Linked DNA regions of Homo sapiens: regions 1 and 3 are each reported to be linked to region 2. Evidence: microRNA targets listed by miRTarBase, many of them from high-throughput screens and not tested one by one. Region 2 holds a microRNA gene; each other region holds the end of a gene's coding sequence. Distances are from middle to middle.

Region 1 (4,177 bases), not on the chromosome of region 2:
TGACAGAGTGAGCCCGTCTCCAAAAAAAAAAAAAAAAAAAAAAAAAAAGGCTTAGGGTGACAATTTTGACATGGGGACAGGAAATTAACATTACACTGAGGTTATTCATAATAAAGGATCTTCTGAGGAATCGGAAATAAACAATGTTGTATGGAAACAGAACCCCAAAACCCCAATAACTCCACCCTCCCCACAACCCACCCCCACTCTATCTCCCCTTCAAAGAGGCTCCAAATACCTCTGGCAAATAATTTCTTTTTCAGACAAAATGAAGAACCTTTTTGCCCAAGAAACTGTGGGCAAAAATAAAACTAACCAATCAGTATTTAAAAAGCTAGACACAGTAAAGACGTGGTTGGGTTTCTGAAGGCTTATAATGGAAATAGTCTCTAGTCTCCAGTCAGGTAACATGCCGCGGTATGACACTCCCATAAGAACCCCCACCCCCCTGCCACCCACTTAGTGTTTTTACTCATAAAAATGAGGGGAAAACTTTTCTACATCAGACAAATCACACAGAGGAAATATTCACATGCAGCTTTAAAAAAGTCCTCTTCAACTGTCATCCCTAAATGTGTCTGACCAGCAGCTTCTGGGAATATACTCTTTAGGTCATGTACAAAAAGGTGTAGGAAGCAAATGTCTATTATTTTTAAAAGATATCAGTGAGTTAATCAAATTAACACCGTTGTTATAGGAACTCAAAGCCATTGGCACAATGTTTCCAGTTTCTCAAATCACAATTGCACAAAACTGTAGATTCTTTAAATCCAGGAATGTTGACTCCTCACCTGAGTATTGTATATCACAATTAATAACCATTAACATTAACTCTGCATTGATAGTCCCTCAATCCTCAGATACATCCACATCTGTTTTGTTCATCCAGATACACGTGCTAACATTTTCAGCTGAGAATAAAATTCAGAGCAACTGTAACTCTTCCTCTTGCATCAGACCAACCGGCAGAAGGGAACGGGATGTCACAAACCAGACTCACGCATCTGGAAAACGTTGTGTGGCTGGGCTGGCTCCAGAAGGAAGCGACGAGGGCCTTCTACCGGCCACACTCCCTTGCTTGGGCTTCCCTAAGCTGCTTTCTGCAGAGGAAAGGGCCAATCACGGCCAGCCAAGGAATACAAGGCCTTGTCAGCTGGACCTTGACTGCGCGTAAGGTCAGTTTCTCAAATCACACCAGCTGGCAGCCAGACCCAGCCGAGAGGACAAAGCAAGGGCTCTGCTAGACCTCAGCAGGAGGAAAACAATGAAACTAGTCACAATACTGCCCAGGCTCTTTACCTGCTTCCCCTCAGGGTGTTTCCTAAAGACAACCCCCAAGGCCCTAGGCCACTGCAACACAGCTACTGTGTGTGACACGCAGCCCCACTCCCTGAGCCCATTCCTGGCCCACGGAACTCCTGTCCCCTAACTGATTCCTCAGGTTAGAACACGGCTTTTCATTTTGCGACTCCAGATGAATCTTTTAACTGCTGAGTACAGAGCTCCTGCCCTAAAAAAGGAAATTTAATGGAATTTACAAAACAAGGCTCTCTAAACCACACACACAGATGGAGTGCCTTTTGAAACTGAATCTCAAACACTCTAAGTAGGGAAAGTTCTAAAGGAATTCATCCCCTGTAATTTGTTTCCCCATGGGTTTTCTTGGGAGAAGGGCAAAGGAATGAATAGAAAGAATTTCACTAATTTCACCCACCAGCATTTTGGCACACAGAAGCCCAGCTTAGGTGGCACTCAATTCTGCCCAACTCATACAGTAGGGCACAGAAAAAAATGACTAGGCTGAGCCTTTTATTCTTAGATCCTCACTTACAGAGAGCTCGAGAAGATTCTTTCCACCCCGAATGAAATTCTAACAGGAGTTTCCACCAAGTAAACCTTTTCCCTGCCTGAATACATCAACACTGAAAATAGGCATCATCTTGGGTAGCTGCCGAAAGTCACGTTTCTGTATTACTTTGCAAGTACGTATTTTGGAAATTCCTGTGCAGCGTGATCTCGGCTCACTGCAACCTCCGCCTCCCGGGTTCAAGTGATTCTCATGCCTCAGCCTTCGAGTAGCTGGCATTACAGGCACACGCTACCATGCCCGGCTAATTTTTCTATTTTTAATAGAGACAGGGTTTCACCATGTTAGCCAGGCTGGTCTTGCAACTCCTGACCTCAAGTGATCCGCCTGCCTCTGCGCACCTCTTTTTAAGTATATTCGGCCACTTCCACACATTGCCTAACAAGCTTCTTCTGGTCAGTGTGTCTGAGATCCTCACCTCAGAAATTCTCACATTAGCAAACCTACTCCAAGGATGCCAGCATGAACCTGAACGGTATGGTCACGTTACAGATCCAGAACACAAAACGACTTCCGCTTTTACAGTTTCAAAGGCCTCAAGGTGGAGAAAAAACTGAGGGGCTGACCTCAACAACTGAAAGAGCAGTGCATGCAGCAGGCTTCAACACGAAGCAGCTTTTCAGTTAAGGTCCTAAAAGTATTATCATTATCAACAGCACAAACAAGTAAGAATGATAGCCCTCCATTGCTTAGGCAGAGAAAACATGAATCTTGTTCTATAATCATGTGAATAACACCATAAATAAGCGCCGTACTTATTGCAGTAACTCGGATCAGGTAGTGATAATAAGGTGGGGAACCACCTGGGGGGTGATCAGACAAATTGTGCTTTTTCACATTATTACAAAGATGTGGGACCCAGAAAAGATGAGACCTCGGGGAAGGGTGCAGGCAGAGAGTGAAGTCTGTGATTCCCAGCATCACAACCTCAAAGGGAAACGTTTAGGGGCCGTGAAGAGGCAGCACTGAGGGTGCAGTTGAAAAGCAGGTGCCTCCTCTTGGACCCTATAAATACCAGGGGCCCTGCAGGCTGAGTCCTGTCCTCAAAGCCCCCTGGGGACAAGGCTCTAAGAGGCGGAAGTGAGTGAGAGGGGTCTGGATTCTGTTAGGCGCTGGGGACTCAAGATTTTGGCATGTTTTTCTATTCCGAGGATGAGAATGACTGGCCCCACAAGATATTTTTATCCCTGTGAAAAGATGCTGTGCCCCAAATTCTGTTTTGGCAAAAACATGCAGAAGGAAGTCAACATAACTGGTATCCAGTTCCTAGGGGTAAGATATTTCAACCATGATCAGTTTGGTTGAAAATTTCAATTCCTTTGGGACAAACTGGTAGTTTCTTTTTGAATTTCAAAAGTAAAAAGCTAATCAGGAGATTTTTTTTTTTCTCTCTCAAAGCTTTTTCAGACCCACTCAGGCACAGGGCGCCAGTCCCTGCCCCGGGGACACTGTTCAAAAGATGGCACTTTCCAGGCTGTAGGCCCACAAAGCCCAGGGGACCGCCGATATCATCACACAGAGAACTCCCGGGTGGGGCAGCAGAGGGGAGCGACCAGCGTACACAGGTACAACAGCACGCATATCCAGCAGGAGGCCATCTTGACCCAGAAGATGGACCAGCTCCCGCTGAAGAAGCTCTCGATGTTGGCACTTTCGTAGCTGTGGAAACAAGACACCTAGCCGCGGTCAAAGCAGGAATATATTGAGATACAATTCACTAATTCACATCCATTTATAATGTATAATTCAACGGCTTTCAATGTATTCATACACAGACTTGTGCTACCATCAACACTACCCATTTCCAAACATTCTCATCACCCCCAAAAGAAATCATGCACCCCTTAGGTGCTCTCCCCTTCCCCATGGCCCCCTCAGCCCACCCCCCGCATTCACCAATCTACTTTCTGCCTCTATGAATTTGCCTATTCTGGACAGTTGATATAAAAGGAATCACATGGTCTCTTGTGTGTGGCTTTTTTGCCTGGCATACAATTTCCAAGGCTCAGCCACGCGGCAGCATGTGTCAGTCCTTCATTCCTTTTTACTGCTAAATAGTATCTTATTGTATGGATAGAGCACATTTTGTTTAGGCAGTCACCAGCTGATGGTCATTTGGGATGTTTCCCCTTTTTGATTATCACCAATGATGCTTGTATGAACACCGCTGTGTAAGTTTTGTGGACCTAGTTTTCTTTTTGTCTTAGGTATACGCTCAGGAGTAGTGGAAGAGCTGGATTACATTGTAACTCAATGTTTAATTGTTTAAGGAGATGCCAAACTCTTTTCCAAAGCAGATTTCACATTCAA
Region 2 (4,177 bases):
CTCCATAAAAATATCTTATCATTTCTCATAACTTAAAAGAGGTTTCATTTTTACTTATTTTGAATGTTAATAGAAGCTAGTTTTTGTTTCTTATTGTAGATGTGTGTTTATATTAACTCATTATTTTATAAACCAAATGCTGTACTATATTTTTATTTACTCACCACTGTACTAATTAGGGCAATATTTTTAAATTGATTTTTAAAAAATTTTCCCATGTATCCTACATGCAAATAGTGCATGGAAAATACATGTATAGTTTAAAGAACAGTAATAATATGGATACTAGTATGTCTCCACAGTAGCAATCAAATACTATTTACTTAAAACATGTAGTATGTCTCCTCCCAGAAGTAATTATAGTCTGGACTTTTGTGTAATCCTTGCTTTACTTTTCTTCAGAATTGAATTATCTATATTTATATTCCTAAGTAATTTTTATTTTACTTCGTAGTATGTCTCCTCCCAGAAGTAATTATAGTCTGGACTTTTGTGTAATCCTTGCTTTACTTTTCTTCAGAATTGAATTATCTATATTTATATTCCTAAGTAATTTTTATTTTACTTCATTTTTTTAGGGTGTTTTTTTGTTTTGTTTTTGTTTTTGAGGCAGAGTCTCGCTCTGTCACCCAGGCTGGAGTGCAGTGGTGCTATCACGACTCAAGTGACCTCCTGGGCTCAAGCGACCTTTCCATCTCAGCCTCCTAAGTAGCTGGAACTACAGGTGTGTGCCACCATGCCAGGCTATTTTTTGTAGTTTTTGTAGAGATGGGGTTTCACCCTGTTGCCCAGGCTTGTCTCAAACTCCTGGACTCAAGCAATCCAATCCATCTGCCTCAGCCTTCCAAAGTGTTAGGATTATAGGCATGAGCCACTGCACCCAGCCTGTTTTTTAGTTTTTTAAAAATTGAGTAACAAGCATAAGCCTAGTTTTATAAGAAGGCTCAGATGAAGGCTTTCTGAGAATGTTACCTGAATAGAGATTCTAAGTCATACTCTGATTTCAGATTTAGCTTCTCTGAGAGTTTACAAAAGCCCCTCTAGAGAATTCAGTTGGACAGGTCATAAGCCAGTTCTGATAAACCTAGGGGTCCACTACAGTTAGAATATCTGACACATTTGGCTGGGCATAGTAGCTCACTCCTGTAATCCCAGCACTTTTGGAGGCCAAGGCGGGCAGATTACCTGAGGTCAGGAGTTTGAGACCAGCCTGGCCAACATGGTGAAACCCTGTCTCTACTAAAAAAAAAAATACAAAAACTTTGCCGGGTGTGGTGGTGGGTGCCTGTAATCCCAGCTACTTGGGAGGCTGAGGCAGGAGAATCGCTTGAACCCAGGAGGCAGAGGTTGCAGTGAGTCAAGATCACACCATTGCACTCTAGCCTGGGTAGCAACAGCGAAACTCCATCTTAAAAAAAATAAAATAAAAAGAATATGTGACACATTCGCAGTGGATGTTATGTGGGAGTGTGCTCAGTCGTAGTAGCAGACTACTCTATATATATTCTCATTCTAGGCTTATGGTGATTTACCCCTATTTTTCACAAGTAGGTCAGAATGTTTCTGCTGGATAAAATGATGTCATTAGCTGATCTAGGTAGTGGCACATAAGACATGGAAGGGAGAGCTGGAATTTCATTGACACATAGTTGAAACAAGATAAATACAGATTTTAAAATCCAGTCTGGGTCACTCAGGCATTCAAAGACTACAGAGAGGCGGTAGCAGGTAGCTTAATGATAATAGCCTGCAGTATGACTTTCTTTGGAAATAACACTGCTGTAGTCTGGACTGGTTTCCCTCTATATCTGTTGCACAGCTATTTTCCTAGGGAGATCCCATTCTAGGGATCTCCTTTAATGTAGTTCTTGGATTTCTTTGTTTTTGGCATCTCAGGTTCCTCCCCACCCCCATACTTTCATTTTGGTGGAGCACATTCTCTAGTAGCTTCTAAAGAACAAGTGCATGAGATGGAATTTTTAGAGATTGGCTGCATTTAAATATCTGTATTTATTTTTGCAAATATCTTTATTCTATTCATAGTTTGGCTGGATTGGAAGTTTTTCCTTCAGTATTTTATTGGCAGTGTTGAATTGTTTTTTTGCTTCCAGTATTGCTTTTGTGAAGTCCAGAGCTCTTCCAATTCCTGATTCTTTGTATGTGACTTGTTTTATTCTTTATTTTTTGCTTTTCTGTCTCTGGAATCTTTTTTTTTTCTTTTCTTTTTTTGAGATGGAATCTCACTCTGTTGGCCAAGCTGGAGTGCAGTGGCACAATTTTGGCTTACTGCAGCCTCTGCCTCCTGGGTTCAAGTGTTTCTCCTGCCTCAGCCTCCCGAGTAGGTGGGATTGCAGGGGCCTGCCACCACGCCTGGCTAGTTTTTCTATTTTTAGTAGAGATGGGGTTTTGCCATTTTGGCCAGGCTGGTCTCGAACTGCTGACCTCAAGTGATCCACTCACCTCAGCCTCCCAAAGTGCTGGGATTACTGGCATGAGCCACCATGCCCTGCTAGGAATCTTGAATCTTTGTTTTTCGTATCCAGAAATTTAACTCTGAAATATATCTACACAAGGCCAAAGGAAGAGAACAGATATATCCACAGTACACTTGGCTGTTCTCTTTCTTTAGCCTTGTGTAGATATATTTTCATCCCCTGTGATGCCTACTTGCTAGACTCTTTCATTCTAGCAACTTCTGTCTTTCTGTTCTAGGCAGTTTTTTTGAATGATTTTCTTGATGATTTCCTCTCCTGCATTTTACTGTTCTCTCCTTTTTAATTTTTGTTCATTGTTACTATTTTTGAGATGAGGTGTTACTATATTGCCCAGGCTGGTCTCAAACTTCTGAGCTCAAGCGATTTTCCTGTCTCAGCCTCCCAAAGTGCTAGGATTACAGGCATGAGCTACTGTCCCAGCCCTGCCAAATTTTTTTTTTTCTTTAATTGAGACTGTGTTTCACTATGTTCAGCCCAGGCTGTTCTCACACTTCTGGGCTCAAGCAGTCCTCCTGCCTCAGCCTCCCAAGTAGTTGGGTAGCTGGGGTATAGGTGCATGACACTGCACTTGGCTGTTATCTTTCTTTGGCCAGCCATTATTTGATATTATACCTTCTGTAATATACTCTAATATGCTCACCTTTTAATTTCTTGCTTTTTATTAATTTTTTTGTCTTTTTATTTCTTTGAAATTTTATCTGCTTTGTCTTTTAATCCTTTTGTTGACTTTTTGCTGTAATGTTTAAGTTTTCAATGATTTTTTTTTTTTTTTTTTTTTTTTTGAGACTGAGTCTCACTCTGTTGCCTAGGCTGGAGTGCAGTGGCATGATCTCGGCTCACTGCAATCTCTGCCCTCCAAGTTCAAGCGATTCTCCTGCCTCAGCCTCCCGAGTAGCTGGTATTACAGGCGCCTGCCACCGCACCCAGCTAATTTTTTGTATTTTTAGTAGAGATGGGGTTTCACCATCTTGGCCAGGCTGGTCTTGAACTCCTGACCTTGTGATCCACCTGCCTCAGCCTCCCACAGTGCTGGGATTATAGGCGTGAGCCACTGCGCCCAGCCTTTCAATGAATATTTTTAAATTAAACTAGTTTAATTTTTCAAGAGCTCTGTTTTCTGTGTGTTTTGTACCACTCTGTTCTTATAGATGGATGCAATACCTTACCTTTCGGATTTTGATCTTTCAAAGGATTTTATAATTTTTGGTTTTTTCAGTTACCTCTAATTTGCTTTTTTCTGTGTTGTTGTTTTGAGCTCTTCCCTATTAAGAATTTTTTTTCCTGGCTGTCTTATGATTATGAAGGAAAGACTAAACTGATTTGGAAATTGCAAGCATATGGTTGGCACTTGTTGACCTTGAGTTTCACTATCGGGTGATCTGGTTGGCCATGTCCTAGGGAATTCATAATATGAAGTCTTTAGGTCTTTTTCTCTTAGACTAGTTGGCTTCCAGAGAAAAGAGTTCCAATCTCTTGACTGGAGGGTGGTAAGAGAATGGTTTCCAGTGTTCTAGGATCTAGTTGAAGAACAGAGAGTGGGGTGGAGGATTCTTAGTGGTTAGATATGTTCATGAATCCCCCTAATTTCAGCATCGCATCTGTACCTGTGCCTTCAACAGTTGTTAGCATCTCCCAGGCTAGGAGCCCTCTCCTACTGTCTTCAGAGAATAAAGCTCTAGAAG
Region 3 (4,160 bases), 220 Mb from region 2:
CTGCGGGTCACTTTGGGGACAGAATGGGTGTGGGCAGGGGTGCAGAACTGCCACCTTCGACCCCTGGTGGGGGTCCCCGTGCCCCCAGCCACATTCCCTGGGGGGATGAGGTGGGCACTCACTTGGCACAGCCCACGAAGAAGTAAACTTTCAGGAGGCTGTTCAGGACCAAGACTCCAAGGGCCCCGATCAGGCCTGAGGGGGCGGGAGGGAGGCAGCGAGGCAGCGTGCAGGGGTGTTAGGAGGGCAGGCTTCATTGGTAGGGTCAGAGGGGGCGGCCAAGGGGCAGGGGTGTCGGGAGACCAGGTGGGTGGGGTCCACCCTGCACTGCAAAGAGCTGGAAGGGGGCGGGGCCAAGGCAGGAATGGGGCGAGGTGCTCACCTTGCAGGAGGGAGTCAAGGAGGCTAGAGCCCCACTCGAGGGAGGGGAGGCCGGGGAGCCAGGAGGGGAGGGATGGAAGAGAGAACATGGCAGCCCCGGAAGGAGCCCCAGCCTCCGGCCAGGTCTGCGTAAGGACAGACCAACGTCACTGGGCAAAGGTGTCGGTGGAGGGAAGGAGAGAGGCTGGGAGGGGTCAAAGGCCCAGGGGAGGGGAGGGGAGGAGAGCCAGGGGTGTTAACCCTTCGAGGCCCAGAAGGGCAAGGTCCCAGCTCCAGGCACACGGGGTGCCTGGAGCCAGCTGCTGCCCGGGCTCCCCATTTGGGCAGTGTGGGGTGAAGGGACAGGTGTCTCTGGGCTGGTCTCTGGTCTCTGTCCCTGCTAAAGTCTGGCATCCACTTTACTTGAAATCTTCCTTGAGGGAGGACAGGCGCAGTGGCTTACACTTGTAATCCCAGCACTTTGGGAGGCCAAGGTGGGCAGATCACAAGGTCAGGAGTTCGAGACCAGCCTGACCAATATGGTAAAACTCTGTCTCTACTAAAAATACAAAAAATTAGCCGGGCGTGGTGGCAGGCACCTGTAATCCCAGCTACTCGGGAGGCTGAGGCAGGAGAATGGCTTGAACCCAGGAGGCGGAGGTTGCAGTGAGCTGAGATCACACCATTGCACTCCAGCCTGGGCAACAGAGCAACACTCTGTCTAAAAAAAAAAAAAAAAAAAAAAAATAGCAATCTTCCTTGAGGGCTTGAACCACCCAATGCCCCTTCGAAGTCCCAGGCTCCATCTGTCCTGCCCCGCCTTAGGTGTGGGTCCTGTCCTCTTGCAGCCTGAAGTGTGGGCTCTGACCCTTCAGCCCAGGGTCTGAGAGTAGGGACTCTATCCCCCCATAGCCAGAGATCAGCTGTGCCCTCTCAGCCTGAGGTCTGGGGCTCTCTTCCCCCACAGCCAGGAGGTCAGCTCTGCCTGCTTTTTGTAAGGTCTGGTTCCAGCTTCCCAAAGCCTCCGGCTCTGACTCGGTGTGGAATCTCCTGCAGCCCGAGCCTGCCTGAGCCTTCTCCTCCCACAGGCCGGGGCCGCCCTTCCTGATGCTCCTCCCTGGGTCCACTAGGTGGCAGGCCTCACCTGGGTCCAGCAGGGCGGAGCTGAACAGGTGGACCACGGCTCCCATCCTGCTTTCACAAACAGAAAGGGCAGAGGGAGCAGAAGGTGGGGGTCAGGGATGGGGGAGACTGAGATTCACCACAGAGGAGGGTCGTTGAAGTAAACAAAATATAAAACTTTATTGGTTTGGAGTGTGCAGTAGCAGGTGTTCCTGGGAGCGGCCCTTACAGACTTGGGGTGTGGCTGGGAGGGCAGGTGGGGCTGCTCGGCAGCAGTCCTGCCCCTGCCAGGGAGTTGGCATCCATCTCTGCAGTGTGAAGGTCGGTGCGGCGCTGAGAGCACACCCACGGGGAATGGTGCTCAGTCTAGAGAAAGGCCCAGGGTCTGCTGCTGGCCCTGCCACGTCGCTTCCCTTTCCCGGGCCTCAGTCCCGGGAACAATGGGCACCTGGACTGAACAATGGGCACCCGGAGCTTCTTTCAGGCTTGTCAGGATATGTGCAAATGCCCACAGGGCGGGCAGCTGGGAGGCCCTCCGTGAGAGCCCTTAGATGATGTTGGCTGAGGCCAGGCGCGGTGGCTCACGCCTGTAATCCCAGCATTTTGGGAGGCCGAGGCGGGCGGCAAGGTCAGGCATTCAAGACCAGCCTGGCCAACACAGCGAAAGCCTGTCTCTACTAAAAATACAAAATTAGCTGGGCATGGTGGCGCACACCTATAGTCCCAGCAACTCGGGAGGCTGAGGCAGGAGAATCACTTGAACCTGGGAGGTGGAGGTTGTGGTGAGCCGAGATTGCACCACCGCACTCCAGCCTGGGCAACAAAGCGAGACTCCATCTCAAAAAAAAAGATGATGTTGGCTGAACTGCGGCCCCTGCAGAAGTGCATGTTGAAGTCCTACCCCCTAGTAGCTCAGGATGTGACTGTATATGGAGATAGGCTCTTGACAGAGATAATTAAGTTAAAATTGGGCCAAGTGAGGTGGCTCATGCCTGTAATCCCAGCACTTTGGGAGGCCAAGGCCAGTGGATCACTTGAGGTCAGGAGTTCGAGACCAGTCTGGCCAACATGGCAAAACCCCATCTCTACTAAAGATACAAAAATTGGCCGGGTGTGGTGGCACACACCTGTAATCCCAGCTACTCAGGAGGCTGGGGCAGGAGAATTGCTTGAACCTAGGAGGCCAAGGTTGCAGTGAACCGAGATCGTGCCACTGCACTCCAGCTTGGGTGGCAGAGTGAGACTTCATCTCAAAAAAAAAAAAAAAAATTAAAGTGGGGTCATGAGGGTGGGCCCTAAGCCAACATGATTTGTGTCCTTATAAGAGGAGGAGATCAGGACCCAGACGCACATCGAGGGACCACCATGTGCAGACACAGAGAGAAAGCAGCATCTGCAAGCCATGGACAGAGGCCTCAGAAGAAACCAGCCCACTGACACCTTGGTCTCCAGCATCCAGCCTCCAGAACTGTGAGAAAATACATTTCTATTGTCTAAGTCGCCCAGTCTGTGGTTCTTTGCTACAGCTTCTCCAGCAAATAAGGCAGGTGACGACGCCACAGCCTCCTGGTGCACCTCAGCCTTTGCCATGGTACAGTGACCCCTATGGGCAGTCCGGGCCCATGGGCCTGTCACAGTCACGCACTTGTCAAGCGCATAGGTCTAGGGTGAGCAGGGCTAAGCTCCAGTCCTGGCTCTGCCACTTCAAAATTGTGTGGCTGTGGTCAAAGCCCACCACTCTAGGCCTTGGCTTTCTAATGGTAAAAGAAGTAAAAGTGCCTGCCTCGTGCTGCTGTCTGAGGCCTAAGTGAGCCGATGTATGTAAGTTACTGGGCCTATGCCATGTGCACGCCCGCAGCAGTTGCTATAACTGAGCAAGGCTCTGGGATGTGGTGACCCAGTACGCAGTACAGAGAAGGAAGAGAACTGTCTGGAAGACAGAATGGGTGGTAACTTGAAGTGGATGCTCTGGACCTGGGTGGGCCAAGGGGCTGGATGGACCAGAGCTGTCCACACTCTCCCGGGACCTCTGGCAGGGCCTGGGCCCATGGCCCGCCCCGGGACAGCCAGTTGTCCTGGAGCAGGCTCTCACTTCCGGCCAAGTGCCGGCCGTGTCAGGACGTGGGGGTGAGGGCCGTCGTCTAGGTGCCCTTGTGCTGGGCCCGCCCAGCCAGTTTCCGAAGCTCGTCCCAGAAGAGCATGCTGAGGATGGTGTGGGGGCCCAGGCGCAGGTAGGCGGGGCCCAGGCCCTTGTAGAGTGCCAGGGGGCCCTCCTGCCGCCAGATCTTCACCATGCAGTCGGTGAGGCCCCCATAGAGCTGGCCCTGGGGAAAGACATGGGGTGAGTGTTACTACAGGGGCCTTGAGGCCCTGGCTGGCACCACATCTTGGCACACGGGTCAATTTCACCCCCACACACCCTATGGACAGCACCTTTGTATTGGACACACCTGTGAGGCTGCGGCGCCATGGGAAGGCTGTGGGGTCAGGCCTGAATTCCAGTTCTGGCTCCTCCCCTTACCAGCTGGGGGAACTCATGCAAGTCAGTTGATCTGTCTGAGCCTCAGCTTCCTCATCAGGAAGATGAATGTGATTATAAGGATGGAATAAAATCCAGATGTGAAAGTGCTTAGCCTGTGCCTGGGACCCGGGGGCTCAGCAAACAAGCCCAGTTAATG

Evidence for each region. The annotated mature microRNA hsa-miR-4753-5p reads CAAGGCCAAAGGAAGAGAACAG and lies in region 2 at 2,570-2,591, shown strand. An mRNA with a match to its seed (bases 2 to 7 or 8) in the 3' UTR can be bound and repressed. Matches are read on the target gene's strand: a 7mer-m8 pairs with bases 2 to 8, a 7mer-A1 pairs with bases 2 to 7 and ends in A, and an 8mer does both.
Region 1: the mRNA of SERINC5 is a reported target of hsa-miR-4753-5p. The part of its 3' UTR that is shown has no 7-base or 8-base seed match.
Region 3: miRTarBase lists SLC25A34 as a target of hsa-miR-4753-5p. Seed matches in the 3' UTR shown: 7mer-m8 at 2,501-2,507.

Annotation. Positions count from the first base shown.
Region 1 is chr5:80,140,285-80,144,461 of GRCh38, forward strand. SERINC5 (serine incorporator 5) reads right to left here. Exons shown (of 12, transcript NM_001174072.3): 12 at 1-3,526. The coding sequence ends at 3,379. Among named protein-coding and RNA genes, the nearest start is that of THBS4-AS1, 59 kb to the left of the region's middle.
Region 2 is chr1:235,188,500-235,192,676 of GRCh38, reverse strand. It overlaps MIR4753 (microRNA 4753), which reads left to right and starts at 2,561; the gene lies at 2,561-2,643. All of the region lies in intron 19 of ARID4B (AT-rich interaction domain 4B), which reads left to right.
Region 3 is chr1:15,738,870-15,743,029 of GRCh38, reverse strand. SLC25A34 (solute carrier family 25 member 34) reads right to left here. Exons shown (of 5, transcript NM_207348.3): 5 at 1,638-3,806. The coding sequence ends at 3,624. It overlaps TMEM82 (transmembrane protein 82), which reads right to left and starts at 531. Exons shown (of 6, transcript NM_001013641.3): 1 at 383-531; 2 at 123-195; 3 at 1-10. The coding sequence starts at 470. SLC25A34-AS1 (SLC25A34 and TMEM82 antisense RNA 1) reads left to right here. Exons shown (of 2, transcript NR_149050.1): 2 at 2,808-2,979. RefSeq lists enhancers at 170-950, 1,352-1,421.